Homo sapiens: one gene and its partner. The protein of the gene in region 2 purifies or fractionates together with the protein of the main gene of each other region. This does not show direct contact. Each region holds a gene or a part of one and is shown on either strand. Other genes may lie near its edges. The genes, in order: RNF146 and AXIN2.

Evidence for each region.
Region 1: the proteins of AXIN2 (region 2) and RNF146 purify together in Homo sapiens (affinity purification with western blotting; 2 studies listed by BioGRID, with this or other methods). This does not show direct contact.

The regions. Positions count from the first base shown.
Region 1 is NC_000006.12:127,264,320-127,280,641, reverse strand, and holds the start of RNF146 (E3 ubiquitin-protein ligase RNF146), read right to left. Parts: upstream 13,779-16,322; 5' UTR 13,717-13,778; exon of another isoform or gene 13,547-13,716; intron 412-13,546; 5' UTR 304-411; coding exon 302-303; intron 127-301; exon of another isoform or gene 1-126. UniProt on the Homo sapiens protein: E3 ubiquitin-protein ligase that specifically binds poly-ADP-ribosylated (PARsylated) proteins and mediates their ubiquitination and subsequent degradation. May regulate many important biological processes, such as cell survival and DNA damage response.
Region 2 is NC_000017.11:65,558,649-65,575,205, forward strand, and holds the start of AXIN2 (axin-2), read right to left. Parts: upstream 3,001-16,557; 5' UTR 2,802-3,000; intron 2,530-2,801; exon of another isoform or gene 2,177-2,529; intron 2,092-2,176; exon of another isoform or gene 1,865-2,091; intron 1,670-1,864; exon of another isoform or gene 868-1,669; intron 89-867; 5' UTR 1-88. UniProt on the Homo sapiens protein: Inhibitor of the Wnt signaling pathway. Down-regulates beta-catenin. Probably facilitate the phosphorylation of beta-catenin and APC by GSK3B.

The DNA of each region.
Region 1 (16,322 bases), on a different chromosome or scaffold from region 2:
AAATTATTATGTAAAAAGAAGGTAGAACCCAGAGGACCTGGAGATCTATTTCAGCATTCTTTGAGCAAACTCCTGTGTCTTCAGTTTTTCTTATAGAGACTTTTCCTTTTGAGGAGACTTGGAAATCTACATTAACGATAACTTAATGTAAATAAATTGTTAATAAAGCACCTATAAGTCAAAAGAAAATGCTCATTTAATATAATTAAAACTACATATGACAGATACTCAATTTACCACACGTTAAACCAATCCATTTAATTTACTGCAGCACTGAAAAAAACCATGATGCTACACTTACATTTCTATTACAGATCCCACAGATGCCTGCCACAAAAATAAAGCATTTTCTTCACCAGCAGTCAGCCAGCTTACAGTATTTTCTCTTCCACTGCTGGTTCATTCTTTGTGCTGCAAAAGAAAAAAAGAGTAATTAAGATCAAGAGAATCAGTTAATTATGTATAATCCTTTCAAAAAATTCAGTGGAAAACTTTATCTTAAAAGTGGGAAAAATTAAAGACAAGATGCATGCTTTTACCACTGCTATTCAACATGACTGTAAGTTCTAGCAGAGCAAATTAGGGAAAAGAGATAAAGGCATACAGACGGGTAAGGAGGAAGTAAAACTATGTCTATTCTCTCTAGATAGAAGATCTCATAGAATCCCCAAGAAAGCTAATAAACAAATTCAGCAAAGTTGCAGGTTACAAGTTTGACACACAAAAAAATCAGTTGTGTTCTGATACACCAGGAGACAACAATCCAAAAAAGAAATCAAGAAAACAGTTCATTCATAAAGTAACTAAGGGAATAAAATAGCCAGGAATCAACTTAACCCAGGAGGTGAAGGACTTGTACACAGAAAACTATAAAGCATTACTGAAAGAAATTAAAGAAGAGCTAAGTAAATAGACAAGTGATGTATGGATTGGAAGACTTAACATATTAAAATGACAATACTACCCAAAGTGATCTACAGATTCAACATAATTCCTATCACAATTCCAACAACCTTTTTTGCAGAAATGGAAAAGCAATCCTCAAATTCATATGGAATTGCAAAGGACCCTAAGTAACCCAAACAATCTTGAAAAATCCAATGTCAAAACTTACTACAAAGCTAAGGTAACAAGACAGTTTGGTGCTGGCATAGGACAGATAAATACACCAATGATATAGAATTGAGAGTCCAGAAATAAACTCATACATCAATAGCCAACTGATTTTCCAAAAGGGTGTCAAGTCTACTCAATGGGGGAAAACAGGCACCTCTAACTAATGTTGTTGGGACAACTGGATTTCCACATGCAAAATAATTAAGCTGGACCTCTACCGTATACTATATATAAAAGTTAACTCAGAATGAATCAATAACCTAAATATAAGAAATAAAACCATAAAACTCTTAATAGAAAACACAGGAGCAAATCTTCATGGCCTTAGATTTGCAATGGATTCCTAGATATGACATCAAAAGCATGAGAAACATAGGAAATAAATTGGGCTTTATATAAGTTTAAAATTTTTGTGCATCAAAAGACACTGTTAAGAAAATAAAAAGACAAACTGCAGAATGGGAGAGTATCTTGGCAAATCATGTATCTGATAAAGGTTTAATATCCAGAATATGTAAAGAACTGCAGCTCAACAACAAAGACAAACCAATTAAAAAGTGAGCAAAAAATGAGTAAAGAACTTAAAGAAGATACACAAATGGCCAATAAACACACAAAAAGATCCTTAACATTATTAGTAATTAGGGAAATGTAAATCAAAATCACAATGATACATCTATAAGGAGGCTACAACTTTTTTAAAGGGAAAAATAATAAGTGTTGGTGAGGATGTAGAAAAATAGGACCTTTGAAAACTGCTGGTAGGAAGGTAAAAGGGTGTAGCTGCTGTGAATAATAATTTGTTGCTTCCTCAAAAAGCTAACACAGCAATGCCACTCCCAGGGATATAGCAATAGAATTGAAGAGGTTCTCAGACACTTGTATGCCAATATTCACTGCGGAAATATTAGGCAAAAGGTGGACACAATTCAAGTATCTACCAACAGATGAATGGATAAACAAAATGTGGTCTATAAATACAACAGTACATTATTCAGTAATAAAAAGAAATATGTGCTACAATATAGATGAACCTTGAAAACATACTAATAAGCCACATACAGAAAAGTATGATTCCACTTACATGAAATATCAAGAATAGGCAAATTCATAGAAGCAGAAGGTATCAGAAGTTACCAGAGAGTGAAGGAAGGAAAGTGGAGAGTTATTGCCTAATGGGTACAGAGTTTCTGTTTGTAATGCTAAAAAAAAGTTGTGGAAAATCTATAATGGTGATAGTTGCATAACATTGTAAATGAAATTAACTACATGGAATTGTACTCTTAAAAACCTGTACCATCTCAGTCATTAATCTTCTTTCTTCTCATTTAGTATTTCCATCTCCACCTCACCATGTCCACTACAGGACGCACATCATATTACACAGAATAATCAAGAACACATGATAACTAAAGAAATGATAGATCTCACAGTAAACACAAGATAGAGGAGACTTCAATCTTCTTTTATTTCCATGTGGCTCTCATACTATGGGCATCTATCTCCCTACGGTATCTTAAGATTCTAGTGTTTAAAGAAACATATTCTTAATGCCATTATGTGGCCCCTAAATACAAGCTGACTTATCCTACCAAATGTTTAACAGAACAAACAATTTGTTTTAAAATCAGAGAACTTTCAAAAGTAACTGACTGTGATGGTTAATACCGAGTGTCAACTTGATTGGAGTGAAGGATACAAAGTATTGATCCTGGGTGTGTCTGTGAGGGTGTTGCCAAGAGATTAACATTTGAGTCAGTGGGCTGGGCAAGGCAGACTCACCCTTAATCTGGTGGGCACAATCTAATCAGCTGCCAGTGAATATAAAGCGGGCAGAAAAATGTGAAAAAGAAAGATGGGCCTAGCCTCCCAGCCTACATCTTTCTCCTGTACTGGATGCTTCCTGCCCTCGAACATCAGACTCCAAGTTCTTCAGTTTTGGGACTCGGACTAGCTCTCCTTGCTCCTTGCAGACAGCCTGTTGTGGGACTTTGTGATCGTGTAAGCTAATACTTAATAAACTCATATATATATTCTATTAGTTCTGTCCCCCTAGAGAACACTGCCTAATATACTGACTAAACAAGGTTTCTAAGTAACCTTTTTGTTTTACTCTGACTTTAGATGAAATGGACTCCACTATTTTGACTTTCCTCTCAACCCTTTCACCAACTTCAAGGAGCCTACAACTTCAATGGCATCAAAGAAGGCTATGTTCATTTCCTTGCTGCAGCCTACGCCAAACAGAAAACTGCACATTTTCATACACTCCCTATATATAGGACAGGAGGAGACAATTTACTGCTCCAACATCATTACTTTTTCTTTCAAGTCTCTATCACACTGACTTTAACATACCCCATAATCCCCTAAAACTGCTCTCTCACCACCTGTAAGGGATTAATGTCATCTTTTCACTACTGATCATCCTCTTCATCCTAACTCCTGACATGACTATCAGCCTATTTAAATAGCCTTGAAAATGAACCATCCAACACCTATTGCACAGGTTCTTAAACTTGTCCCAACTTCTATTCATCAGAATCACTGAAATTGCTTGTTAGAAATACATATTCTCAGCCCCTTTCCTTAGAAATTCTAGGCCAGTAGACATAGGTTTAAACCTAGGAATCTCACCCCAGGTGGTACTCATGCTTTAGTCCTTCAAATACAATCTGAGAAACACCATCCTCAATTTTCAGTTCCTTAAATCCTAAATTTGAAGAAATTAATCTACTCTCCAGCAACCAAATATTATAATCACATTTAAAGCTAGTTGTCACCTAAACTGCTGCCTCTCTGAAATCTTAATCCGACTCTCAGATCACAAGCTCTGGTTCTTCCAGCCTACTCATTCCCACACCTGCTCTTCAATTTCATGGGGACCTACCATCTCTTGACCATCTCCTTTCCTTTATCCAGTTCCTGATCTCATTTCCTTTCCTGCCCATTCTGGAACCCAATCTTTTTTACTTCTTAACAGAACCCTTGGCCCCCTCATATCTTTATCTCATATACACACATTTTACAAACCCCCATTTCTGCATAATTCTTACAATATGACATCTCAGGTTTCATGTCTTAACTACTTTGTGTTCATGGAGAAAAAGAGAAAGTCCTTTCTCTCACCACACAGCCCCCTGCTCCCCCACCCCAACCAACCACACCATAAATTCTGTCAACTTTTATTCCTAATCCCTTTGGAATCTATCCTGTACTCTCTACCCATTGCTAGTGCCCTAGTTTAAACCTACATAACTCTCACCTGGACTATTGTTCAGCCTGATTATCTTGTGTCAGTATCACCCTCATTTATTAAGCCTTTGAGTGAGATTCTCTCTCTCTCACTCTCTCACACACACACACATACACTCACTCTACAGTCTGTTTCCCAGGCTAGAATGCTGTGGCATGATCATAGCTCACTAAAACCTCAAACTGCTTGGCTCAAGCGATCCTCCCATCTCAGCCTCCCAAGTAGCTAGGACTGACTGATATATTTAAAAGGCAAAATGGACCAGGTTTCTTCCATATGTGAAGCACAATATTGGGTCCTCAGCCTACACAATAAAGACAAAGCTCCTTAGGACAACATTAAAAGGTTTTAAAGATCTAAACTGTAAATAATTAGTCTCTAGTCTTTTTTATCTTCAACAACCACCCATAGATTAATAATCTAGTTGTATAAAATTACTCATAGTCCTGCAAACCTCCCTTTGTAGCTCTGTATTTCCTCCTGCCTGGTACGATCTATTCCCTTTTACAGCTTATGAATGCCTATTTGTTCTTTAATATATTACACAGAAATGGTTATCTCTACCATTTTCTCTGACTACCTCCAGAAAGTTAACTGTTCTCTCCTCTATGTTTTGTATGTTTTTCTATTACGGAATTTATCACATGCACTAATTTCAATTCATTTGTGAAGTCTGACTCTTCTGTGAAATCATGAATCCCCTGAAGATAGGGAGATTTTTATATCTTTAAATAGCTAGTAAATTGTCAATCAATTTTTGTTGAACTGATATTTTTTGGATGAATGAAAAATCAACTCCTAAAAGTAACTATTGTGAGGAACAGAATATCAAAGGATTAGATTTATTCAAATAACACAACACTTGAGTTCTAATTGTGAACTCAAGCTGGAATCTGTAAGATACATAAAAATATCTAAGTTCTAATCCTTGCTTTATATAACTTAAAATCTAAAGGAGTTCCTACATTTACAAATATAAAATTCAACCCATCTTTGTATCTTTTGGCAAGCAAATCATTTACCCAGCTATTGTTCATTGTCAATGAATTCTCCAAAATGGAGATAAAAATCTAAGCATAAACCAAGATGGGTTTCTGAACAGCCAAAACAGCTTCACAAAGCTCTTTCCCCAATAAAGCTTATGATTCTTCACTAGGATGACCACATAGGTCAGCCCAGCATCTATCCAGTTTGCCCTTGGTCTCCCAACAAGTGTTCCAGTTCAGAAAAATTATACAGACATTCTACCCTTTACCCATCACAAAGGTTTTCGGACCATCACTCAAAAGTCAATTTGCTCTTACTTTACCCACAATTCTTTTGTTTTGTTTTGTTTTAAGAGACAGCGTCTGTTAACCAGGCAGGAGTCCAGTGGTATGACTGCAGGTAACTTAAACCTCAAACTCCTGGCCTCATGTGATGCTCCTACCACAGGCTCCCAAAGTGTTGGGATTACAGGTGAGGGCCACCATGCCCAGCCTTTACCCACAATTCTAACTTGAAGTTTTTTGGTCCACAAAGTCCTGCTGAGTGTTGCTGTTGGTCATTAGCACTGCCTATCCTTCGCTATCTTACAAGTCTTTTAAGATGTACCAATCCATCCTTCTCAGAACCTAATTGATTGAATGGTAAAACCTCTAGTGTGAAGATTCAATTAAAACATTTCTTCTAAAAATTTCGTTCAATCACTATTTGTACTTTAATAATTGAGATGTGTAGAAGGTACCATTTTATTCCTAAGAAATACACAAAAAATGTCCTTGTTTCTAATTCTCCTTATCTCCTGAATGCATTTACACATTATCTGTAACCAATCTAATTTATTCCTCTCTATTCACTTACTTTACTTAGGTCTTATCCATAAATATTTTATCTCTGAAACAAAAGTTGATTCTTAAAGGAATCTAAGTTAACTGAAACAAAGCAGCTTCAAAATAAGTACAAAAAAATCCTCTAAAGAACCCATATTTGAACACCCAAATAAGCTGTGATCTTTCCTATAAAACTATTTCACATAGCTGAAATAAAGCTATAGCCACAAATATTAAAGTAAAAGCTTTGCTACATATCCACTAGAACAAAGGTACTAAAAAAAAATCTGGTTAATTCAAGGAGATGCATTCTCTCATTCTGCTTTCCTTATTTGAAGACTAATGATTAAATTCAAGTAACTTATCAATAGCAAAATTATTTGAAAAAGCCCCTTATAAAGAAAACACACACACACACAAACCCAGGAGCAGAGAACTATTTACTTAATAGTACTGAAATAACAGCAAAGTATCTATGAATAATGACTTTCCATCAATATAAACTTTCTCCTTCAACAGAAAGAACATCCTTGCCCTCATTACACTCCTCTAGTCCAGTTATGTTCAGCAGTAAACAAAAGAATGTATCAGTGACCATAACTCACATTCGAGTATCTTTCTATACATTAATGCCATTTTCAAAAGAACACAGCCAAAGACATATTTATTTAGCCTATTTCTTCAATTTTTTTTTTTCTAATTCTGGCCTGAAGTCATTTCTAGGATTCCTTTAGAAATGGCTTTCTCTAATTTTCAAAATATTGATGATGTCATTTCTTTCTTTAAAGATCTTTGACGATAACCTCATACAGCTGACCTTTCAACAACACAGGTTGGAAATGAACAAGTTGACTTATATACATACAGTTTTTTCAATAAATATGTTGGAAATTTTTTTGGAGATTTGTGACAATTTGAAAAAACTTGCAGATGAATCATGTAGTCTTGAAACATCAAAAAAAGGAAAAGAAAAAATTAGGTATATTATGAATGCATAAAACATATATAGTCTATTTTATCATTTAGTATTATAAAATATAGAGAAATTATAAGAAGTTAAAGTGTATCAAAACTTAGTAAACACAGACACATATGGTGCCACTTGAGGTGGTACAAGAAATTTAAACAAATGTAAAGATGCAGTATGAATCATAGCTGTATAAAATTAATTGTAGTACATACTGTAATAATTTCCTGTTGCTATTATGAATTTCCACTTAAAATGCTGTGGACACTAATCATCTCTGCATGTATTGGAGTAAAATGTAATCTCTTGTTCTTGTGTATTTTTCATCATGTTTAGTACAATACCATAAACCTTGAATAACACCATGGGACCCATGTGAAGTGCCACTAGTGATGCTAGAAGTGCTCCCAAGAAGCCAAGAAGTCATGCCATTACAAGAAGTTAAATTACCTGGTACACACCCTAGATGGGTCTGCAGCTGCAGTTACCCATCATTTCAGACAGACACCTTATAAACAGGTAACATAAACACAGTATCGGTAAATGCAGTACTGTAAATGTATTTTTTCTTCCTTAGGAATTTATTTTCCTTTAGCTTATTGTAAGAATATAGTATGTAATGCATATAACAAACAACGTGTTAACTGACTTTACAGTAGGCTATTAGTAGTTAAATTTTGGGGAAGTCAAAACTTATACTCAGATTTTCAATTGTGCAAGGGGTTGGCACCCTTAACCCCATGTTGCTCAAGGGTCAATTGTACTGCCCTCTTATTGTCTTTGAGCATTCTTTTATTTCACCTCTCATTATGCATTATCTTTCAAAAATACATTTGCGTAGAACAACACAACCAGGTTCTTCTTGGCTGAGATTTAGCCATCTTATGCAACCAATAAAAGTGACTCCAGATAAAAGCAGACAAAAAACTTAACAGATGTAAACAGGAATCCTACAGCAGCCCTAAGAGTCCACAGTTCATATAATTTTAGTAAATCTTGCATGCTTTGGTGACTTTTTCAATTTCTATATCCTCATGAATAATTTTTTCAAAGTGCAGACTAACTGGATAAATGCTGGGGAAGGAAAATGAATTAAAACTAACATAATGCTCTAGATCCTAGCTATACAAACAAACTGGGATTCCCAACTAGTACTATCAGCACTACCTGGGAGCTCTTCACAAATGAAAATCCTAAGTGCCACCCTAGACCTACAGAACCAGATCTCCAAGTGATTCACATATATTAGTTAGTGAAACACTACCAAATCCATATGTCACTGAATCCTCAAAACAACCCTGTGAAATATGACTATACCTATTTCACAAATGAGGAAGCCTAAGCTCAGGAAGTTAAATGACTTACCCAAAGTCAAAGCCATCAATATTGGGAGATGCGATTCAAATTCAAATTTACCTTTAAAAATGTCTTTCTACAATGTATTGTCTCTCACAGAAAAGGTCACGTATTATCTAATAGAAATATGATGCAAGCCACGTATGCAATTTCAAATTTTCTATTAGCCACATTAATAATAAAAAGAGGCAGGGCATGGTGCCTCACATCTGTAATCCTAGCACTTTGTGGGTAGTGACACAGGAGGATGGCTTGAGCCTAGGAGTTATAGACCAGCCTGGGCAAGATGGTGAGACCCCCATTTCTACAAAAATAATAATAGAAAGAAACAGGTAAAATTAATTTCAATAATATATTTTATTTAATCCAACGTTTCTACATTACTGCTTCAGTATGTTTCAATATAAATTGTTAATGTAATATTTTATGTTCTTGGGTAAGCGTATGCATACTTCTTTGAAATCCAGTGTGTATTTTACACTTACAGCACAACTTAATTCAGACTGGATACATGTCAAGTGCTCAATAACTCCATGTGGCTAGTGGCTACTTTACTGGGCAATGCTGGTCTAGAATGTCTTGCATATTAATCTTGTTAAATACAAAACTGACAAGTCACTACAGGAATTGTTTAATAGAGACAATGAATTCAATGTTAATTTACCTAGACTTTTGCCGAAGACACATTAAAAAAGAAAACTGCATATTCTGTTATAATCAAAGTTAATGGGTTTAGGTAGCCCCAATTCTGCCAAACTGACCCATCACCTATTAACTCTCAGAATTTATACAGTTGACCCTTGAACAATGTGAGGAGTTAAGAATGTCTACACCCTGCGCAGTCAAAATTCCATGTAAACTTTTGAGTTTCCAAAAACTTAACTACTAATAGTCTACTATTGCCTGGAAGCTTTACTGATAACATAAACAGTGGATTAATATATGTTTTGTATGTTGTATTATATATTGTTTTCTTGCAATAAACTAAAAAAAAGAAAACATTATTTAAAAAATCGTAAGGAGGCCAGGTGCGGTGGCTCACGCCTGTAATCTTAGCACTTTGGGAAGCTGAGGCAGGAAGATCATGAGGTCAAGAGATCAATACCATCCTGGCCAACATGGTGAAACCCCGTCTCTACTAAAAATACAAAAATTAGCTGGGCATGGTGGCGCACACCTGTAGTCCCAGCTAATTGGGAGGCTGAGGCAGGAGAATCTCTTGAATCTGGGAGGTGGAGGTTGCAGTGAGCCAAGATCGCACCACTGCACTCCAGCCTAATGACAGAGCAAGACTCCATCTCAAAAAAAAAAAAAATCATAAGGAAGAAAAATATGTTTACATTCATTAAGTAGAAATGGATCATCATAAAGGCCTTCATCTTTTTCAGGAGGACGAGAAAGAAACATTGGTTTTGCTCTCTCAGGGGTGGCAGGGGCAGAAAAAAAAAGTATTGTATAAGTGGAACTACACGGTTCAAACCTTTGTTCAATGGTCAACTATAATTTCAACTGGGCACAAAATAGGGCATACATGTAATACTTATAACAATCATGTGAAGAAGCCCTCAGAAAACTCCCACATTATTTGAAACCAAAGTTTTTTTAAAGTTGGAGGAGAAGGGATGCTTTTATTTTAACCAATAGGGGGATGTAAAACAGAACAGTATGATTTCAACTACAGGCCAGAATTAATTTGCCAAACATAAATAACTCAAACATACATAATTCCTACTGGAATGAATGACCTGTAAATTTTACACCAAACTTAATATGATGATGTATGAAGAAGGTAACATAAAAAAAAGAAAAAGTCTAAAACCAAATTAGATACTTTGCCCCTAACAATTCTGGAGGAAAAAAACAGTGACAGGTAAAACTTAAAAATACACAAAGGGGTTTAGGGATTATCAATGAATTTAAATCTTGACCCATTCAAATAAGTGAAAAATAAATACAACTAAAAATGAAGTAATATTGTACCATTTATAATTTGTAACAACTCAAAATACTCATACTCCCACTTTTCAAGTCAGTCACAAGATCAAAGTCAAGAGTTTTTTTCAGGTAATAGATTCAAGCAAGCGATTATCTTTAATCAAAGAAAAAGATGAGCATATAACATCAATATAAATACATATAAAAACAAAGACAAATATCAATTATAAATATTTGAAGACTTACTGTATTTTTCTAATTATTAACAGCTAATGTTTAATAAGATTTTTGCCATTTATTCAAAATACACAAAACAGTAAATGTTCTACATGAAATCACTCAGTGACAGAAAGAAAAAATACTTGAAATGTTCCAACTTTTGGTACACAACTCAAAAAAAATTATATATACATAAAAGGAGTAGATAAATCAGGTGTGAGTTAGCAGACACATCTTAGTATTTTTTATAAACCAGTCACAAATTGAGAGATGTAACTAAATGCCCTAATGTCTCAATTTTTAGCCCTCATCATCTCCTGCTAAAAATTAGCTAAGAAAAAGCATAGGTCATACTTGGAAACTTCAGACAAAACTCATTTCAACTAAATGGGGTCTGATACTTTAAAGAATTATTTCCCTTTAAGACGTTACTATGTGGCAGTCTACTTACTGCCTTCACAATCTTTATACTAGCCCATTAAACCCTTTAATTTTTCTCAAAACAACAAAAAAGTGAGCTTTGCATTTTATTTCAAAACATGAGATGTAAAAGTGAACGAATATTGTCTTTTAATCATATCACACACAGATGTTTCTTAGCCAGCAACCATTTCATAAATAAGAAAGCTCTTTGGCAAATTATCTGTGTGACCTTGGTCAAGTCATAACCCCCAGTCTTTTGTTATCTCATCCTACTCTATAATTCTGTAATTCTAAGTTCTAAATGCTTTAATTAGCAGTCCGTTAACAACATTTTGGATTTGAATTAACCCAAAAGGTAACACGCCATGAAAACTAAAGATAGTCCGTAAGTAAGCACAGGTGGTTGTAGCCAAGTGTTACATAAATTAGTTTCTATATCCACAAAGATGTTGTTTCACAAATTCAGATTCCTCAGGCACAAGGCAACCAAGAGAATGGAAAAGGCTCAGTACCTTCTATTACTAACACGGGAGAAAAATACGCATTCGAATTCCCAACTGTCAGTGCTGTTAGATGTTTCCTGGTAGTATATGGTTAACATATAAAATAATATTCTTTAAAAAGATCGATATTGTGAAAACAAAAGATTTAATATCCTTTTCTTCTTTTGACTCAAAATATCGTTTTGGATCCTTTAAAAAAAAAAGTCTGTTCCTTTCCTCTGACAAGTTAGGTTGGTGGAGACTGAAACAAAACACTTTGTAAGTTGACATCTCCTTTTAAAAGAAGTTATTTCTTTTTTCTTCTCTTGTCTAAAAGACCAGCTATTTGGAGAGAGTTTTCCTGATAATTATAATTCTACCAAGTTCTGAACAACCAGCGAAGAAAAAAAATATTTAAATGTATTTCCAGTCTGCCCACATGATACACTGGCTCATTTGAGACATAAATTCTAAATGAAAGATTGGGCTGAACAACATCCTCCACTTTAAGATATACAAGGCACCAAAACAAACACATCCAAAATCTATTTTTAGAGTGGTGTTCACTCTTCCGGTTTTCTCTTTAAAACGAGATTTAGTTGACCTATTTTCATGTGTTTTTAGGGCACCCAGACACTCTATACAAACAATATTTGCTAATCATAAAACAGCAAAGCCAAAATCACAAATCCTGTTATCTGTGTGGGACATTTTCTCCACGTGTCCTTACGTGCCATGTCTTTGAAAAGTCTAAATATAGATTCACTGACTAAAATGTCCTAAGTCTTCCAAATTCTATAATTATATACTGGATTGAATGCCAATATTATACGTTCACATCCCATTTGAAAAGTACACACACGAGGTGGGGGGGATGTGCCCACTACCTGAAATGCCAATCATACAAAGAACAAAGCGTACCCTATCATCTTTGGGCTTTCTTCTCTCCTCAGTTCTACACTGTTTCGATATTACAAAAATATTAAACAAAATGTTCAAAACTTGAGAAATAAGTGCTCACTAAAATGGCACTTAGAGAAAATAAATTAAAACATATACCAATATGATTAACGAGAAAAGATTCTAGTTGCCAGGATGTGTGTGTAAACTTACAGTCCTGTAGGTTTTACCTGTGGAGAGGACGGTTCCGTCTCCACTCTTAAAACAATTTTACATTCTTTAGAAGCCTTAGCAAAATAAATAGCGACAACAATGGAAGACCCACACTCCTTCAGACGGGATGGAGGGTAGGAAGAGAACTCCCCACCCAACAATCAGAACAAAGCAACAGCCTCAGCTTTTAAGATGCAGAGGGTTTGGAGGCTCAAGGGATATTCTGAGATCTCTTAATTGTTCCGATGCTTCAACAGCCGTCAAAAACAACTAAGAATATGCAGCGCTGGGCTTCACTAGGACAAGGTGCAGGGATTGCTCTCTTCGTTTTAGGCAAGACCGAGACACTGAGCAGGAGAAAAAAAAGGAGGAAGAGCGAGAGAAGAGAAAGCAGCAGCCAGAGACACTCCGGGAAAAGGCAAAAATGCAGACTGTACGCCCTGGCTTCGATCTGACCCAAGGCCCAAACTGTCTGACCCCACACGGGAAAACATGGAGCAGGCTACCGCCGAAAAACCATCGCCGCCCCTACACCTCGAGGCCAGAAGGTCCCCGGGTAAAGGCCTAAAACCACGGCCCAGAGGGGAGGAGAGGGACCCGCCTGCCACCCGAGGCAGCGAAGCGGGCTCAGGCGGAAGAGGCTGCGCAGTAATGGCCGCTGCTCCGCCCCTCGCACCCGGACCGAGACCAGCTCCGGCCGTCACCCAGGGCAGGGGCTGCGGCGCCCTCGGGCAGCGCAGGGGCTGTCACGGTCGTCTTGCCTGCCCCAGCAGCCAAGGCGGGGGTGGCGGAAAGGGCTGAACTGTCCCATCCCGCCTCTGCGCGGACAGCCGGGGCCGCGCCAGCCCAAGGGCGTCCATCTACGTACCGGCCCCTGACCCCGCCGCCGCCCCTCTCAGGCCCCGAGCGCAAGGCCGACCCGGAGTACGTTGCGGCTGGAGGTGACACCGCGAGCTATGCCTCCTCTCCCCGAGTGAGGATCCTAGAGTGGCCGGCGTTCACCCTGCTCCCCCGAGAGGGCCTCGCTCCGACTCCCACCTCTCCGGCCACAGCTGCGGCCACCTCGCAGTCTTTTCTCTCTGGCCTCGGAGCCCGCAGCTGCCGGGAACGCGCGCGGCCGTCACGTGACCACCCGGCGCGTCGCGGAGGAGGGGCCGCGACGCGCCGCGCACCCGCACCCGCACCGGCGAGCTAACTCCGGCGCCTCATCGTTCTGCCCCTGTCTCGCGCCGCTGTCTGCCGGTACTCTCTTGCCTGTGGGGAGCGGCGACTTCGCTGCTTGCATTCTTCTGGCTTCTTTAGAGTGTGCTTGCTTTGTATTAGGGCCCAGAGGCTCTGAAAGAGTGCAGTTCCAACAGAAAGAGATTTGGGGTGGAGGAAGTAAAACGTGTGTAGGACCAGCAGGTGGTGCTGCTCAAAAATCCAGCTTTGCTATCCTGAGGAAGCTCTGGGGCGCCTAGCTGAGTTTCGGCTTAAAGATCCCTTAGCAAAAGTACTGCTTGTTCCCTTTCAAGAAAAAAAATGGGGAGGGGGGGGACGGAGGGGAGAGAGTACTGTAGGACTTTCCAATTTGTTCTCCTTTTTAATGGTTGAGCAATTTAATCGGGGAAAAAATGAGTATTAGTTTTCTTTTGAAACCCCACCCTTTTTTTAAAAAAAACAGAATAGTGCCTGAGAAACTGAAGAAATTAATCTGCATGATAATCTAAAATTAAAGAGGTTATTTTGATCGCAAGCCTGTGGTTTTAAACATCAGAACTCTAGCAGTAATTCACCATTTTAGCATGTACATTTCCTTTTTCAGAACTGATTAAATTTTCCTAATTTGTAGGAAAATGAAGAGGGTGGAAGAGCAGACCTTTTATCTTTAGAAGAGTATGTATTTCAACATTCTATGACAGCGTCTTCTCATTTGCATTAGTGTTGCATTTTGGGATTTCATTAACTGTTTGATTCAGGATTGGAAGTTTTCAGTGTCCTTATAGGTATAGAAATGTATATGTTTTCTGTTATTCCTCTGAAATCAGTTTATTTCAGGGTTCTCATTCATATATATCAATATGTAACCCAATCTCTTGAAGGGTGCATCTAGTTCAGTGATGCTTGCGCGTGTATGCAATACTGTTCCATACATGTAGAAATATTGAAGTGTATATCCTTTAACTTTAAGCTTAGTTTTCTATCTTTATCTTCTTATTAGCCACTCAGTTTTGTCCCTCTATCCTACACAGCCCATGAACAGAGAATAGCTAAAATTTGATATGTACTCGAAGATTCCAGCTTGAAGAGGTAATGCTAATATTAACTAACAATGTGCCAGGTGTTGCTCTAAGTGCTTTATTCATATATACCCACTTAATTCTCATAATAAACTATGAGGTAGGCACTATTATTATTCCCATTTTACAGAGAGAGAGACACACACAGCTGAGATTTGAATCCAGGCACAGACTGTAAGATGTCAGCTAGTTCAACCCCTTCTCACTCATACCCAAGGTCTTTGTATTTCAGTAAATGGTTGCATCTTTCCTTGTTCAAACCCACCTTTAACTCCTCTCTTTTATGTCTTATATGCATTTGGCATATAACCTGTTGGCTCTTCCTTCAAAGTATATCCAACTACTTACCACCTCCGCTACAATCTGCATCATCTCTTGTTTGGATTATAGTGTTACGGTAGACCAGGAACTAGTCTTTTGACTCTATCCTTAATACAGAATCCTAAATAAATCTACTTAAAAAGAAGTGAGATCGTACCACTCCTTTGCTCAAAGTCTCCTGTGGCTTCCCAACACAAGTAAAAACCAAAGTCCTAACGATGGCTTTAAAATCCTCCCCTCATTACCTCTTTGACCCCACAGACTGTTTACCCAGCTTTGTATTCCCAGAAAGCTCTCCACAAGCTGCCAACCTCATAGTCTTTGCAGTTGTGGTTTCCTCTGCTTAGAACACTCTTCCCCATCATGCTCCCTCCATATGTGCTCAGATGTCCAACTCTTCAGTCAGTCCCTCTACTTGTCAGCATATTTTAAGTCATGATGTTTCCATTCCCAATATTTCATATTTCCTCCTTTACTTTTTAATACTTATCACAGTGTAATGGATAATTTATTTTACTTACTAATCTTCATCATATTTCTCATCACATTAGGACGCAAGACACAGGAGGCCAGGAATGTGTGTTCTGTTTTGTATCTCAACTGCCAGGAATAGTGCCTGACACACTTAAAGAGGTTCTCTGTAAATATGTGTTACATGAATGAGTAAATGAATGAATGAATGAATGAATACACACATGGCCGGGCAGTAGCTCACGCCTGTAATCCCAGGACTTTAGGAGGCCGAAGTGGGCGGATCACGAGGTCAGTAGATCAAGACCACCGTGGCTAACACAGTGAAACCCTGTCTCTACTAAAAACACAAAAAAATTAGCTGGGCATGGTGGCACGCGCCTGTAATCCCAGCTACTCGGGAGGCTGAGGCAGGAGAATCGCTTGAACCTGGGAGGCGGAAGTTGCCCGAGATCGTGTCACTGCACTCCAGCCTGCACTGCAACAGAGCAAGACTCCGTCTCAAAAAAACCCCAAAAACCACATTTGTGTATGTGAGTGTGTATATATATCCCCATTTATATATATATATGA
Region 2 (16,557 bases):
GGAATTTTTCTTCTTCCAGTTCCTCTCAGCAATCGGCGTGGTCTCTCTGTCTCTCTCAAGTCAGCAGGGGCTCATCTGAACCTCCTCTCTGGAAAGAAAAGGAAGGGGGGAGGTGGGGAGAGAGAAAAGGGTATTGATCTAATCAAAACCAGATCTACCCAACATCAAAGCAAGAAAGTAAACAGGCTTTTCAACTCCTCAAATTCAAATCAAGCAACCCAGCTATCTGCGAGGTGCTCATCTAAAGTATCAGGCGCTGCTTTTCAAAAGCGAAATCTGAGCTCCCTGCACACTTTTCGGGGTTGGGGGTGGGAGGGAGCTGTTGGGAAAGAGGCGGGGAAGGTGAGAGGAAGGCAAGAGCTGGGGACGGCAGGGGGACACTGGAGGTGTAAGACACAACCTTCCAAAAACCCACTCGGCCAGGGCGCACGCAGGGCAGCTCAGCCCGCGCCTCGCCTTCCCTCCCTTCCCCTCCCCCGATACCATCAACTCCAAAAAGGCGCACTCCCAGCCGCTAGGCTGTGTGCAGGTGAAACCAATTTCGGTATATTTCCCCACTCGGCCCTGCACAGATAACTCGAGCTCCAAACGTGCCCTTCCCCGGCATCTGGTTCCCATTCTCCCCACCCACCCCCTCCCTCTGCGCTCCCTCTTCCCACTCCTTAAAAATTCAGAAGATCCTGGCCCAAGAGAAGCCCGCCCAGCATAGGCGGATTGGGCTCCCGGACTCCCAGATTCAGCACGCAAACACCCCCTCCCCAACTCAGATTTGAGTGTTCGCTACGCGCCCCCTACCCCCACCAAGAATCCAGCTCAGTCAACACCTCTGTCTTCCCTGACCTCCCCCCAAACCAGAAACCAACTCACTCAGGGGAGACTTTCATCTTCAAACTTTGAGAGAGAGCTGAGAAGCCTCGGAACCGTCGCCCCCGTGCCCCCAACCCACCTCCCGGATCCGCGAAACCTACAAAACTGGATCACCAGCCGTCTCACGCCACTACTGCCTGTGCCAAGAATCCCAAACTCTACTGATTTCAAGCCTGTCTTTTTTCCAAAGAAAAAAGTCTTATCTAACCAATAAACAAGCTGCTTTCCCTAGCACGGAAAAGATCAAACTAAGAAGGGTAGGGGCTGAACGGGGTGCAACCCCGGGCGAGAAGCCAGGGACCCCGGATCTGGGATGGGTGCACGCTGAACCCGACCAGAGCCTCGAGCCGCGGGGCTGGGCGGCGCGGCCCACGGAGAAGTGGGGCTGCCGTTGGCACCGCGCTACCCGGGCGGTGGGAGGTGGAGCGGCCCCGTTACCTGGAAGACGAAGGCCGCCGAAGCCAGGCTCTCATGTCCTCCGAGCCCCTCCGGCCCGGTCCCCCGGCCCAAATGCAACTGAACGCCTCCAGAGCCCTGGCGGGCACACCTCGAGGCCGGAACCCCGGGACACGCCAGCAGCGCCCCGAGCCCGGGCGGGGGGTCGGTCCCCGGCGCCGCCGTTTGCAGAGGCGCCCGCAGAAAAAGCACAGAAAGCAGCAGCCTAGTCCAGAAATGGCGACGCGCGGAGTCTCTGCCTCTCCGCAAAAGGGGCCGGGGCGGCCACGGGCGAGGGGCCCGGGCCGGGAGGAGGGACGCGAGGGACACGGGCGCCCCGGACTTGGGCCGGTCCTGCGCGCAGACTGAGCCTCCGCCAGCGCTGTGGGCCCCTTAGCGCGGACCCGCGGCAGGGAGGGGAAAAGGGGAGGGGGAAGAGAAGTAGGAGGAGAGGATGGGGCGGAGGAGAGGCGGGGGGCGGGGGAGGGCAAGCGGGGGGCGCCGCTACCCTTTCATCCCACCTCCCAAAGGCACTCCCGCGCGCACTCACACGCCGACTCACATCCATAACCGCGACAGCGACGCGACCCCCGGGGGGTATCTGCCCCCTCTCCGCCCCCGCCACTGCCGCCACTCGGATAAGTCTCCTCTCTGGGCCCCCCGCCAACCCGGTCACCGCGCTGGGGAGGGGGCTCCGGCGCAGGGCGCGCAAGGCTGCCCGGCCAAGCCCCCCGGAACGCTGGGCGCCGGGTCCGCCGCTCCCCTCCGCGCCGGCCCCTAGCGCGCCCCGAAATAGCCGGCCTGCCAACTTCAAAGGGCCGCCCCGCACATCAAAGCGCGCGGTCCGCCCGGCCGCCTCGGCCTCGGCACTCACCATTGATCCCCGCGCGCGCTCGGCGGCGAGACCTCGCAGGCGCCCCTGGCAGGGGCCCGGCCCCGGCCCCCGGCTCGGCTCGCGGCGGCAGCCCCGGGCCCCCCCGGGCCGGCCGCGGCGTCGGGGAACATGGGGAGTCGTGCGGCGGGGGAGGGGGTGCGGGAAACAACAATCCCGGGTTCAGAGCGAAAGCCACCGGCCGGGGAGGGGGAACGGCGCGCCCCGCCGCCCCTTTTATGCAAAAGATCCGAGCGGGCCTCCGCCCCCGCCCGGCCCGGCTTTCAACGCAGGTCCTGTTTCCAGCAGTCACTCGGCGCACCAAATGTCCTCCGGGCGCTTCCAACAAAAACTGCGCTGTGGATTTAACTGTGCACTTCAAAGGCGCGAGCCGAGCGCACGGTCCTGAAAGGGAGGTACGCGCCGGCCGCGCCCCGGGCCGCCCCCCGCAGCCCCGCCACCGCTCCGCAGGGCCGCCCCGCCCGCGCCCCCCTCCAGGCCCGGCCTCCGCCTGGCCGGGCCCCCTCCCGCCCCCCGCGCCCACGCCGCGGCTCGGCGCGACCTCGCCCCCTGTAAGAGGGGGGCTTTCTTTGAAGCGGCTCCGCTGGGGCCGAGCTTCCACCCCCACCTTTTACAGCAGGGCCTTCGGCGGGCGCCTCGGCCGCCGGGCGGCCCCGAAATCCATCGCTCTGAGGGGTTATTTTTATTTCCCGGCTCTCGGGCTGTTACTGAGTTGCCAGGACCTTATCAAAGCGCAGCCGGCTCCAGCCGACTCCCCCGGGCCAGGCTCGCGGAGCCAGTGATCCCGCCGCGCCAATCACAGCCGCGCTCGGCCGGCCCGCGCCGCCCGCCTTAAAGGGACAGCGCCCCGCGCCCGCCCCGCCCCGCCCCGGCCCGCCCCCGCCGCACGCTCCGCTCCCGCGTTAACCCTTCCCCGGCCTCTCCTCCGCCCCCTGCCAGCCCCCCGCGGCCCCGAGGGCATTCTCAGCCCGAGTTCTGATTTCTTCTTTTAAGTTCTCCGGCCTCTTTGCTCCCGCCTCCTCCCCCTGCCTGCCCTCGCTCTCCCCGGCTCTGGAATGCAACAGTTTCTGGTAGCATTATGGCCATCGCAAGAACTGCAAGCAAGCAGATTTTTTTTTTTCTATCATCAAACGCTTTTCTACCTCTATTCAAGTTTCCCTGGGAATTTGGGCTTGGAGGACTTTATAAAGGGAGTTCCGGCCCTGGGGTTGGCTGGCCCGCTGTCATAGGGCGGACTCGGGCCCAGCCGCTGGAGGCGTGTGCATGCCTGTGCGCGCTTGTGCACGTGCATCTGAGTTCGGGTAAATATAGGACTGCAGTTGGTGGATGAATTGCGTTTGTGCATGTGTGAAAGTGGGGTGTGAATCCGCCAGTATAGGCCTGAGTGCTAACACCAGTTAGGAGGCATACCTCAGTGCCCTGAAGACCTAGGTCCAGCTTCCTAACCTGCTGGCCATAAGACCCTCGTAGCGGCACACATTGGCCATCTCTCCCAAACAACTGCATACCCGTTACTCTTCCAAAGTCCCCTCTTCTGCCATATGTTACATATTAAACCGATAGGAATATCTTTTTTCCCACTCCAAACGACAAGGCATGCATGCCGTTTTAATGTATCGAAAACTCCTCACCCCATTGTCACCTTTGAATTTCTCCCACATTTGCCCAAAAACGTTTATAAGGCACACACAACCTTCTCTTCTCCGTTAAAATGAGAAAATATGTCACAAACCCAGAGCATTGTGTATTTATTCTGCTGCTGCTATAGAATGATTCCTTATGTTATGAGCGAATAATTAACTTTTCTTCCTTTTAAAAAACAAAGGGCCGGGGACGGTGGCTCATGCCTGTAATCCCAGCATTTTGGGAGGCCCATGCTGGAGGATCATCTGAGGTCAGGAGTTCGAGACCAGCCTGCCTAATATGGCGAAACCCCGTCTCTACTAAAAATACAAAAATCAGCCGGGTGTGGTGGCACGTGCCTGTAGTCCCAGCTACTCGGGAGGCTGAGGCAGGAGAATCGCTTGAACCTAGGAGACGGGGGTGGGGGGGTTGCAGTGAGCCAAGATGGCACCACTGCACGCCAGGCTGGGTGACAAAGCGAGACTCCCTCAAAAAAAAAAAAAAAAAACACACACACACACACACATAAAGGTGTGAACCAAAGAGATCCAAGAAGTGAAAGGCAGAGTCCTGGCCTCAGAGCTGTGCAAGGCTCTTACTCTCCAACTTAATGGATGACGAGCCCTTTTAAATGCGAGATGGCCTGTCATTAGGCCTTCAGAACTTTAAAACATGCAAGAATTGTGGCTCTATCTAGGTATCCATAGAAAAAGAGAAGGAAGAGGCTGGGTGTGGTGGCTCACCCGTGTAATCCCAGCACTTCGGGAGGCCAAGGCAGGCGGATCACCTGAGGTCAGGCATTCGAGACCAGCCTGGCCAACATAGTGAAACCCTGTCCCTACTAAAACTACAAATATTAGCCAGGCGTGGTGGGGGGCGCCTGTAGTCCCAGCTACTCGGGAGGCTGAGGCAGGAGAATCATTTAAACACAGGAGGTTAAGGTTGCAGTGAGCCTGGGCGACAGAGCAAGACTCCATCTCAAAAAAAAAAAAGAAAAGAAAAAAAGAGGAGGAAGATCCACCACCCATGATCTGCTGGAAAGGGGCAGGTGGCAGGACTGTGCGCCACCTGCCCTCAGCCTAAGGGACTGTGACAAGGGACTAGAAAGCTCTTAGACTTTCTAGTCTAAGACTCTGGACTCTGGCTCGTGGGTGCCATGACAGGTGGCCGCTCCTCCCCAAAACCTGCCTTTCGGTGCCCATGGTCTGCAGCTCCAGGCTCTCGACCCCAGGCAGCCAGGTTGGCATAAAGACAGCAGTACCAGCCCTGAAATGTGGCCCTGAAGCCAGCCAGGAAGGCCAGGGAAAGAGTGTGGCCCGATGACTCATCTTTGCCTTAGGACAACTGCTGGTGTGAGGAAACCAGTGGGCTCTAAAAGCCCCGGCCTGCTGGTATTCTGGGGGGTCAGTGGCCCATGGACCCTCTTAGCCACCAGCTCTGAGCTGGCCCAGGGCCAAGAACACAGCCACCACCTTTGGCCACCCCAGGAGTGCCAAGAGTAAAACTGTCACTGTGGTTCCAGGGAGTCTTTGGGCCACAGAGGGTGTTATTACTGGAACAGAAATGTAGACAGAGGGGTATGGATTGCCATAAAAGTGTCTACCATATAAACAACAGTAAAGTCACACACACACACACACACACACACACACACACACACACACACACAATGTGGGGGGTGGGGGAGAGAGAAAAATCAAAACATCTAAAATCAAAATAAACAATGTTCAGAAAAAAGAGGTTTTCAAAAAGGAAGTGGAAACTTGGTCTTTGTGGGTGGTTTTCCTCTCCTCCCAGTTGTCCCCACCGACCCGTCACTGCCTCCCCCAACCAGCCCTAATCACTGTAGGCTCAACTTTAACCAAAGGACTACCTCATTATCCCATGGCTGCGACTGTAGCAAGAGGGGACTGGGACTGGGACTGGGGACCCAGGAGCAAGGCCCGGTTTGGTTTGGATCTTCTCGGTCAATAATAACTGCTCTGAGGGCCGGGGTGCAGTGGCTCATGCCTGTAATCCCAGCACTTTGGGAGGCCAAGGCAGGTGGATCACCTGAGGTTAGGAGTTCGAGACCAGCCTGACCGACATGGAGAAACTCCTTCTCTACTAAAAATACAAAATTAGTCAGGCATGGTGGCGCATACCTGTAATCCCAGCTACTTGAGAGGCGGAGGCAGGAGAATCGCTTGAACCCAGGAGACGGAGGTTGTGGTGAGCCGAGATCGTGCCATTGCACTCCAGCCTGGGCAACAAGAGCAAACTCCGTCTCAAAAAATAAATAAATAAAAAATAACTCCTCTGAGAGCATGGTTTCCAGAACAGGTGCTCGGGTCACTTTAGGGCAGTGACTCCCTCCACCATCACCCCTGGCCTGTCCCCTTTCCTACAGCTTTATATCTGGTGGGACACTTCCCTCCCAGCAGGAGGCTGGGCCAAGTACTGGAAAGCCCTCTCTCTAGCCTCTGGGTCTCTGACTACTTGTTGATAATATTTCTAGAGGAGAATCCAAAGTCCTGTGCTTATAGCAGCCCGTTTCTCAAGATAGCACGTTTTCCATTTTCCCCTTGTCCCTGGCAGCAGCGCTATCATGTGACTTGTTGTAATCCTGCACGGTTGCCTGGAAACTGGAAAGCAAGGTGATGGATTTCTGCACATGCTCACTCGCCCCCCCGCTCCACCTTTAAAGAAAAACCCTACGGAGGATAAACAGTCCACTTTGCCTAAGTGCAGACAAGTTTAATAAAGCAGAGAGTGATTCTTTGCTGGAATTATATACTGGGCTGAAATCCTAGAATCCCAGAAAACAAGGACTAAGGGCTCCCTGGGAGGCATCTGGCCAGATCTCTGACCTTTAGTCAGCCCCACAAAAACCACTGTGGAGGGGAAGTCACACCAGCTGGGACTTCAGAGGAGCTGAGACCCAGGACACTGCTCTCTCAGATTCAGTAACTTTGTCTTTTATTCCTTTGGAAAAGTGCTGCCTTAGACAATGTACCTTTGTTTGGGGAGGAAGGTGAAGAGAGACACAGGTAACCTTTCCTAAGACTGGAGGTTACCTAACCACACGGAGTTTCCATTTGTTCACCTGTAGACTGGAGGAAACCTCCCCTGCAAAGGCTGTTGTGAGCCTGAGCAATACGATAAATGCCTGGCACAGAGCTGGACACACAATAGAACATGGCGGTTATTTTCACAGAGTAAGTCTGTTCCCTCAATAGCCTGTTACCTATTCTGGGAAGAAACTCCCTATCTCCAAAGCAAAGATACCGTCCATTGGGAGTGACGATCTGGGGAAGAATGACCCCAGGAGGCTGACCATAGGGGGCCTAAAGGAGATAAAGGAGGCTGTGCCCTGCTACCATCTTTCAAGGATAGTCCTATGCAGAAAGAAATAAGCCCAGGGGCCATTCAAGAGTTATCTAGTCCAACCCTTCATTTAAGAAACCAGACAAATTGGCTGGGTGTGGTGGCTCACACCTGTAATGCCAGCACTTTGGGAGGCTGAGGTGGGCAGATCACCTGAGGTTAGGAGTTCGAGACCAGCCTGTCCAACATGGTGAAACCCTGTCTCTACTAAAATTACAAAAATTAGCTGAGCATGGTGATGCATGCCTGTAATCCCAGCTACTCGGGAGGCTGAGGCAGGAGAATCGCCTGAACCCGAGAGGCAGAGGTTGCATTGAGCGGAGACTGCGCCATTGCACTCCAGCCTGGGCAACAAGAGCGAAACTCTGTCTCCAAAAAAGAAAGAAAGAAAGAAAGAAATCAGACAAATTAAGCAAAGAGAAAGTGAGATTTCCCCAGGATCACTTTGCCCATATCAGAGATGAGCTGGAACTTCTGAGGGGTCCTGACTCCTGGCCCAGCCTCTTTTTCCTCCACACCATAGTGAGGAGACCCAGGGAGGGGCTGGCTGAGATGGAGGGGGTGAGACCATCTGGAGGTCTTGACTTTTACAACAGGACTAATACATACAATCTGGGATACTTTCCTGAAAGAATCACAACAGGGCTTCTGTCTGAAATCCCTCTAAGGCACGCTTCATCCAGCCCCTACCTGTAGGTAGGTTGCCTTGGCTCTGCCAGCTGGGCTACCCACAGCCTGATCTGGGACAGTTTGACCCACGTCTTTTAGAGTGGCAGCCATTTACATGGGCATCTCCGTGGAGTTGATCCACCTAAGGAGGAATGGACCTACTTCCTCTCCCCTTTGCAGAGGAGGGACTGGGAATGCCAAGGTGGAGATTTTGAAGCCACAAGGGGAAAAGTAAGGTTTCCCTAAGAAATCCCATCTTCAAGGCCAGGTGCAGTGACTCACACCTGTAATCCCAGCGCTTTGGGAGCCCAAGTAGGTGGATCAGCTGATGTCAGGAGTTCAAGACCAGCCTGGCCAACATGGCAAAACCCCATCTCTACTGAAAATACAAAAATTAGCCTGGTGTGGTGGCAGACACCTGTAATCCCAGCTACTCGGGAGGCTGAGGCAGGAGAATCATTTGAACCCAGGAGGCAGAGGTTGCAGTGAGCCGAGATCGTGCCACTGCACTCCAGCCTGGGCGACAGAGTGAGACTCTGCCTCAAAAGAAAAGAAAAGAAATCCCATCTTCAGAAGTGTTGGGGGAATTTATTTGTTGATAAAATATCTTTTTTTAATATGAAATTTAAAACACAGTTAAACAGTAATTTAAAACTTCCTAATTGGACTGACTTTCAAGTGCTTTTATTATGGATTGTAAATAGAGCTGCAAACTGCTGATTTTTTTTCAGCATCTCACCCTTCGTGGTCTTCAAGTTTGGCTTTTAGGAGTTGGCCTGAGCTTGTAACCAGAGGAGAGCACCGATATACCTATATTAAAACAAATCCAGAAAGAGGTTTTGCTTTCTTTTTTCTTTATTATTATTATTTTATTTTATGTATGTATGTATGTATTTATTTATTTTTGTTTTTTGAGATGGAGTCTCGCTGTGTCGCCCAGACTAGAGTGCAGTGGCATGATCTCGATTCACTGCAACCTCCACCTCCCGGGTTCAAGCAATTCTCCTTTCTCAGCCTCCCAAGCAGCTGGGATTACAGGCACCCGCTACCACACCCGGCTAATTTTTTTTTTTTTTTTGTATTTTCAGTAGAGATGGGGTTTCCCCATGTTGGCCCTGTGATTCCCCCATCCTGACCTTGTGATCCGCCTGCCTTGGCCTCCCAAAATGCTGGCATTACAGGCATGAGCCACCGCCCCCGGACCAGAGGTTCTGTTTTCTTAAGTGATCTTCTCCACAGTGAGAGACACCAAAACAAAGGGCGAGGTTGGGGGAGAAAACAGCCCCGAAAGGTCATTTTTAGAAAAGGAACTGGAAAATAGAAAGGAATCCCCCTAAAGTCGTCACGCCAACCTGCGACGCGTGTTCCTAAACCGCCCCCCGTAGACATTTTTCTCACCTTCTGATATCTTATTTTGCTCATTTTAAACAACTTCTGGAAAGCAAAGTTTAGCTGAGCTTGAAATAAGTTGCCTTATTCACCTCTGGGCACAGTGGCTCATGCCTGTAATCCCAGTACTTTGGGAGGCCGAGGCGGGTGGATCACGAGGTCAGATAGAGCCCATCCTGGCTAATATGGTGAAACCCCGTCTCTACTAAAAAAAATACAAAAAGTTAGCCGGGCGTGGTGGCACGCGCCTGTAATCCCAGCTACTTGGAAGGGTGAGCAGGAGAATAGTTTGAACTCGGGAGGTGGAGGTTGCAGTGAGCCGAGATGGCGTCACTGCACTCCAGCCTGGGGGACAGAGCAAGACTCTGTCTCAAAAAAAAAAAAAAAGAAACCTGGGCCACATCTAGACTCCGCCTTCTCCCTCAAACGCCTCCATTCATTCACCCAGCCCTGTTGATTCTGCCTCTAAAAAAATCTCCCACCACCACCTCCTGCTCTGCAAATCCACAACTGCTATCAGGGCCCTTGCCAGGGACAGCCAAATGTTCTAATGATGCTTCACACCTACAGTTTATAGCCCTAACCCCTGACCCCCCTCACGCAGTGCTGCAATGGTAAACGCTGTGCAGTGCAGAGCCACCCATGTCATTCTCCTGCTTCAGATCCTCCCCGGCTGCACATAACCTTCAGGATAAGGCCCAGAACCCTATGTGTGGTGCACAGGTAGCCGGCCCAAGCCCAGGCCCTTTTCCAGCTCTATTTCTTTTTCTATCTTTTTTTGTTTGTTTGTTTGAGATGGAGGAGCCTCGCTCTTGTTGCCCAGGCTGGAATGCAGTGGCCCAATCTTGGCTCACTGGAACTTCCGCCTCCCAGGTTGAAGTGATTCTCCTGCCTCAGCCTCCAGAGTAGCTGCGACTACAGGCGCATGCCACCACGTCTGGCTAATTTTCATATTTTTAGTAGAGACGGGGATTCACCATGTTGGCTAGGCTGGTCTTGATCTCCTGACCTCAGGTGATCCACCCACCTCGGCCTCCCAAAGTACAGGAATTACAGGCGTGAGCCACCATGCCTGGCCCTCCAGCTGTATTTCTTGCTGACACCCCCTTGTCCCTACCATATGCATGGTGGATTGCCTCTCCTTTTCCTCCCTGGCCGACTGCCCTCCCTCTGCCACTTCTTCAGTCCTCTCCCACCTCATCCCCCGAGACCGGGCTAGAGCCCATCCTCCTACTTCTGTGGCATCTGGGGCTCACCTCTAGCAAACACTGTGGTTGATCTACTTCTCTGTCCCACCCACTCAACCATGAACTCTCTGAGGACAGGGACCGTGTTTTGTGATACTTGCATCCCTTGAACTAGATTGTGGGAAGGAGGGACCTGGGCGATATTTAATAGCTGGTGAAACCTGTGTACCGGCCAATCAGAACTGATACCAGCCTAGGGTCTGGAACAGGGTCTTGGAAACCCCCTGCCAGAGTCAAGCCAGTAGTCGCTGTGTCACGAGGAGCTGTGGTTGGCATCCTCTAAGTTGGGCCCTAATGATCCCTGCTTCCTAGTTCCACACCCTGCATACTTCCCTCCCCTTGAGCATGGATAGCATTTGACTCTCTCCTAATAAATAGAGTATGGCTGATGTGACAGCACATCCACTCCACATTAGGCTATCGAAAGGCTGCGATTCCTTCCTTAGGTGCTTTCCCTAGAATCTTGAGGCATCCCTGTTGAGGGACCCGTGTGACGAGGGACAAGCCCTGCCACCAACCAAGTGATCTCAGAAGCCGAACGCCACCTAGGCAAGCCTTGACATGATGCAGGTCCAGCTGCTGGCTTGCTGGTAGCCTCATGGAAACCTCAAGGAGGAGGCACCCGGCTAAGCCATGTCCAGATTCTGGACCCACAGATGAAGATGTATCCTCTGGGGAGGGGAGTGGTGAAAACTGACCTGCTGATGAGACTTCGCCCTGTCAGTTAACATTGCTAATGGTAAGAACCCAGTTGCAAGACATACAGGTTGTGAATCTTTTCTATACTTTATTTTTTTTATGTTTTCTTTTTCTGAGACAGAGTCTCGCTCTGTTGCCCAGGCTGGAGTGCAATGACGTGATCTCAGCTCAGTGCAACCTCTGTACCCAGGTTAAGGTGAATCTCCTGCCTCAGCCTCCCGAGTAGCTGGGACTACAGGTGTGCACCACCATGCCTGGCTGATTTTTGTAGTTCTAGTGGACACGGGGGTTACACCGTGTTGGCCAGGTTGGTCTCAAACTCCTGACCTTGAGTGATCGGCCAGCCTCAGCCTCCCAAAGTGCTGGGATTACAGGCGTGAGGCACCATACCCGGCCCTTTTCTGTACTTTATGAAATGACAGCACGTTGATGGTCAATGACGACAAGCATAAGCTATTGGCAATAATTATCACATATTTGGGCCAAGCCCAGTGGCTCGCGCCTATAATCCCAGCACTTTGAGAGGCCAAGGCAGGTGGATCACCTGAGGTCAGAAGTTCGAAACCAGCCTGGCCAACATGGCAAAACCCCATCTGTGCTAAAAATACAAAATAATTAGCTGGGAATGGTGGCAGGCGCCTGTAATCCCAGCTACTTGGCAGGCTGAGGCAGGAGAATCCCTTGAACCCGGGAAGCAGAGGTTGCAGTGAGCCGAGATGGTGCCACCGCACTCCAGCCTGGGTGAGAAAAGCCAGACTCCATCTAATGAATAAATAAATAAATATCACATATTTGAAGTTCTTCAAAGGTTACTGGAAATTTCTATTGAAATATATCAAAATTCTAATAGATTAAGAAAGAAATATCAAATTATTTTGAGATGTTACTGAGTTACAGGATAGAGACATTTGGTCACACTCAAAAGCAATATTTGCTTTGCCGCCACCTTTTTCTTCCCAAATGGAAAGAACTCACTGGTCTAGGAGGTAAATGTGAATAGTCCTTGCAAGCTATTGCATTCGAATTAGAGGAGAGGAAATGCATCTTCCCTATGGAGCGACTAGGAACCTGGGAGAAAGGGGCTAATAAGAGGATCGTGTGACTTAAATGTGATAGCAAAATTAGCGGGGACATGGGCTAATTCTATGCATGATGATGGTTTTTAGAAAGCAGACCTCGGAGTCCTTGTCATTGAATTTAGATGGGAATTGGTGGGGGCGGGGATTGGCGGGGATTGGGGGAGAGGATTCCTGAATGGTGTGGCTCAGAAAGACTTTGAAGAAATCTTGGTATTTGATGACCCTTTTAATGACAGTGTGCCCTGGGAGTATGTTCTCTAAACAAACAAGGAGAAATGGTCTACAGATCAGTATGGTTGAATGTTAATAGCTTTCTTAGCAAAAACATTGCTATCACAAACAATAAAATGTGTAGACTGGCCAGGCGCGGTGGCTCACGCCTGTAATCCCAGCACTTTGGGAGGCTGAGGCGGCAGATCACCAGGTCAGGAGATAGAGACCATCCTGGCTAACACGGTGAAACCCTTGTCTCTACTAAAAATACAAAAAATTAGCCGGGCATGGTGGCACGTGCCTGTAGTCCCAGCTAATCGGGAGGCTGAGGCAGGAGAATCGCTTGAACCTGGGAGACGGAGGTTGCAGTGAGCCAAGAATTCGCCACTGCACTCCAGCCTGGGCGACAGAGCGAGACTCCATCTCAAAAAAAAAAAAAAAAAAAAAAAGTGTAGATTGAGACTCACCTCCTGGTAATCATGCTCTTTTGGTAAATACTTTTGCTGATAACTTTTGAGTATAGAAAAAGATACAATAATTATTGAAACTAGAAAATCTATCTTGATAGCTTCAATGAATCACCCAAACACCTAAGGGATGTTGGGGGAAAAAAAATTGGTCAGGTGCAGTGGTGCACGCCTGTAATCTCAGCACTTTGGGAAGCTGAGGCAGGGTGGATCGCTTGAGCCCAGGAATTCAAGACCAGCCTGGGCAACATGGTGAAACCCCATCTCTATAAAAATACAAAAATACAAAAATTAGCTAAGGGGGGCAGGGGGAGAGAGAGCATCAGGATAAATAGCTAATGCATGGTGGGCTTAATACCTAGGTGATTGGTTGATAGGAGCAGCAAACCACCATGGCACACGTTTACTTATGTAACAAACCTGCACATCCTGCACATGTATCCTGGAACTTAAAATAAAATAAAAATTAGTCAGGTGTGGTGGCGCACATGTGTAATCCCAGCTATTCGGGTCAGGGGGCTGAGGTGGGAGGATCGCTTAAGTCCAGGAGTTTGAGGCTGCAGTGAGCCGAGATCGCACCACTGCACTCCAGCCTAGGAAACAGAGCGAGACCTTGTCTCCCTGAAAAGTAAAAAAATAAAGAAAACAAAAGAAAGAAAGAAAAAAAGAAAAAATTCAGTGAAAAACAAGTATTGAGCTAGCCCAGCTTTTCAGATAAGGAAGACTGGAGCAAGACATCCCACCAGCTTCAACGGGTCAAGCGGAGTCAGGTTAGGTGACAAGGCACCACCCCCACTGAAACGAGTCTTTCTTTTTGCAAACTGCCTTGTTTTCAAGACGCTCAATTTGTTAAATGCATTCATCTGTCTACCTTTGTATAACTTTTCACAGGAATCCATTGGTTCACAAAGCAGAAAATGATCAAGACCTGGCAGCCTGACTTGGGGGTCAAAAAATACGGTCACAAAGAGCAGAGTGCAGTGAGTAAGGGGCTCCATCCCCACCTTCTCTTCTACTCCAAGGTCAGAGAAGAGCCAGAGCAATTTGTAAGAGCACAGAGGTGTGAAAGGCAGGTGCCAGACGTGGCCTGTCCAGGGAAGGAGGGGGAGGTAGGGTCGCTGTCTGCAGAGTGGATACTCGGAGAATGCCCTTGGGGACACCCTCAGCTGTAGAACAGATTCCCGAGGTCAAGACCAAGAAAGGCACCAGGGCCACCCAGGAAGGGAGTATGGGGCGCCATGGGGTGGCCTCGGGACTTCACCCATTTCCGCTCGCTCAGGCAGCCACCCACTTTGTGCAGGTCCAGCAGCTGCTCCAGCCGAACTTGGCTTATCTGTAACAGACCTGACCCTCCCCCACTCCATTCCCATCCCTTGAACTTTGACCTTTTCTCCCCAACAAAGGCCACCTGCTTTCCTTTCTCTCGCTGTCCCCAGGAGATGCCCTGCTCTGAATTTCCCTGTGAAAAGGCATCAACCTCAAACTCTACAAGACAATGGAGGGTCTTGCATACGCCTAGGGAGGCAGTTGTGCCTGGGAACATGGGGCTGGGCCTTTTCTTGGGGAGCCACGGTGGCACGAGGAAAGCAGGCACCCAAGGCAGCGGGCACTGGGGCCCCAAAGTGGAACCCAAGAGCAGGGTCTCTGCCCTCAGCAGCCCCCAGTCTGGGGGAGGGTGGGAAGAGGACACCGATAATCCCCGTTTTGATATTTTTTTGTGCCACATGATCGGCAGGAAAGGTGAGACAGACACAGGGCACAGGAGAGTTGGAGGCTGTGGGCAGCTGAGAACAGGAACTGCAAAGACCCCAGGCAAGAGGAAGCTCTGCCTTTTCCAGAAACTCATAAAAACTGAGAACCAGGGAGAGCAGGGAGGGAGAAAGGTGAGGTGGGGCAGACTGGCCTAGGCCGGCTTGGCAGAGCACTGTGGGCCACGGGAAAGTGGTGTTTTCTTTATCCCAAAGTGTCTGGATAAGCCAGGGAAGTGTGGCTCAATGGTTCAACACAGAGGCTCTGGAAATGGACGGCCCCGCCTCCTATGGAGAGTCTGTCATTCCTCTGTGCCTTGGTTTCCCCAAGTGTATAATGGAAGGAATGGCAATGCCTGTCTGGTGGGTTGTTGGGAGGATTAGACGAAGAAGTGATGCAGCTGAGCGTGGTGACTCACACCTGTAATCCCAGCATTTTGTGAGGCCGAGGTGGGCAGATCACTTGGGGTCAAGAGTTCAAGACCAGCCTGGCCAACATGGTGAAAACTCAACTCTATCAAAAAATACAAAAATTAGCCAGGAATGGTGGCATGTGCCTGTAGTCCCAGCTACTCGGGAGGCTGAGGCAGGAAAATCGCTTGAACGGAGGAGGAGGTTGCAGTGAGCTACTGCACTCCAGTCTGGGCGACAGAGTGGGACCCCGTCTCAAAAAAAAAAAAGAAAAGAAAAGAAAAGAAAAGAAGTGATGCAGTAAAGCAGTTAGAACCCCCCTGATGCCCAGGGAATACCTGGTAAGGGTTAGACATCTTTAGAAAAAAAACAAAGAGAGCAACCTGGCCTAGGGCCCTGCTCCCCTGGCTGGGGAGGCCCTACAAGTTATTCGGCTCTTAAAGATGCCCCTCCCTTCCCTATAAAGTGGGAATGAAATATGACAGATTTAAGGTGAGGTTTGAATGGAAATAGTCTAGCCAGTACATTTAGTTTCTGAAAGATGTAAGTGCTCAGCTTTCTGGCACAAATGGCTTCCCAAGGCCCGTAAAGGTCTTGGCGCACATTTAATCTTTTCACTGCTCATTGCAAGTCTTCAGCTAGGGGTAGCGGCTGCAGCCAGGTGACCCCTGGTGAGTCTCCATCAGAATGTGCCCACTCCCATGCTCAAGTCTTGCTGTGATGACAGTGGGGACTTCTAGGTACTTGCAAATGGTCACGTGTTCTTTGAATTCAGGAGCCCTGAACCCTGTACAGCATCACAGCCCCCAGCTTTGCTAGGTGCCCCCATCACCACTACCCTCCAGGCCTTCCTCTGGTGCCAAACGCTGCATTGATGTGTTCTATAATTTTTTTTTTTTTTTTTTTGAGATGGAGTTTCGCTCTTGTTGCCCAGGCTGGAGTGCAATGGCGCGATCTCAGCTCACTGTGATCTCTGCCTCCTGGATTCAAGCAATTCTCCTGCCTCAGCCTCCGGAGTAGCTGGGATTACAGGCCTGTGCTACCATGCCTGGCTAATTTTTGTATTTTCAGTAGAGATGGAGTTTCACCATGTTGGCCAGGCTGGTCTTGAACTCCTGACCTCAGGTGATCCACCTACCTCAGCCTCCCAAAGTGCTGGGATTATAGGTATGAACCACCACACCCGGCCTTGTTCTATAATTCTTGTTCCTTCTCCCAAGAGCTGTAAGATGGGCCCCAGGGGGCACCCAAGACCAGGTCCAAAGGGGACAAAGGAGGGGATGCACAGAGGTAGGAAGCCACAGTGAACCTCTCTCGAAGTATTTGCTACCACGTGTCTGCATGCAGCCCGGGCGAGGCTGTTTGTATTGCATATATGAGGTGCTGGGTTTTTCTTTCTTTCTTTTTTTTTTTTTTTTGAGACGGAGTCTCACTGTCGCCTAGGCTGGAGTG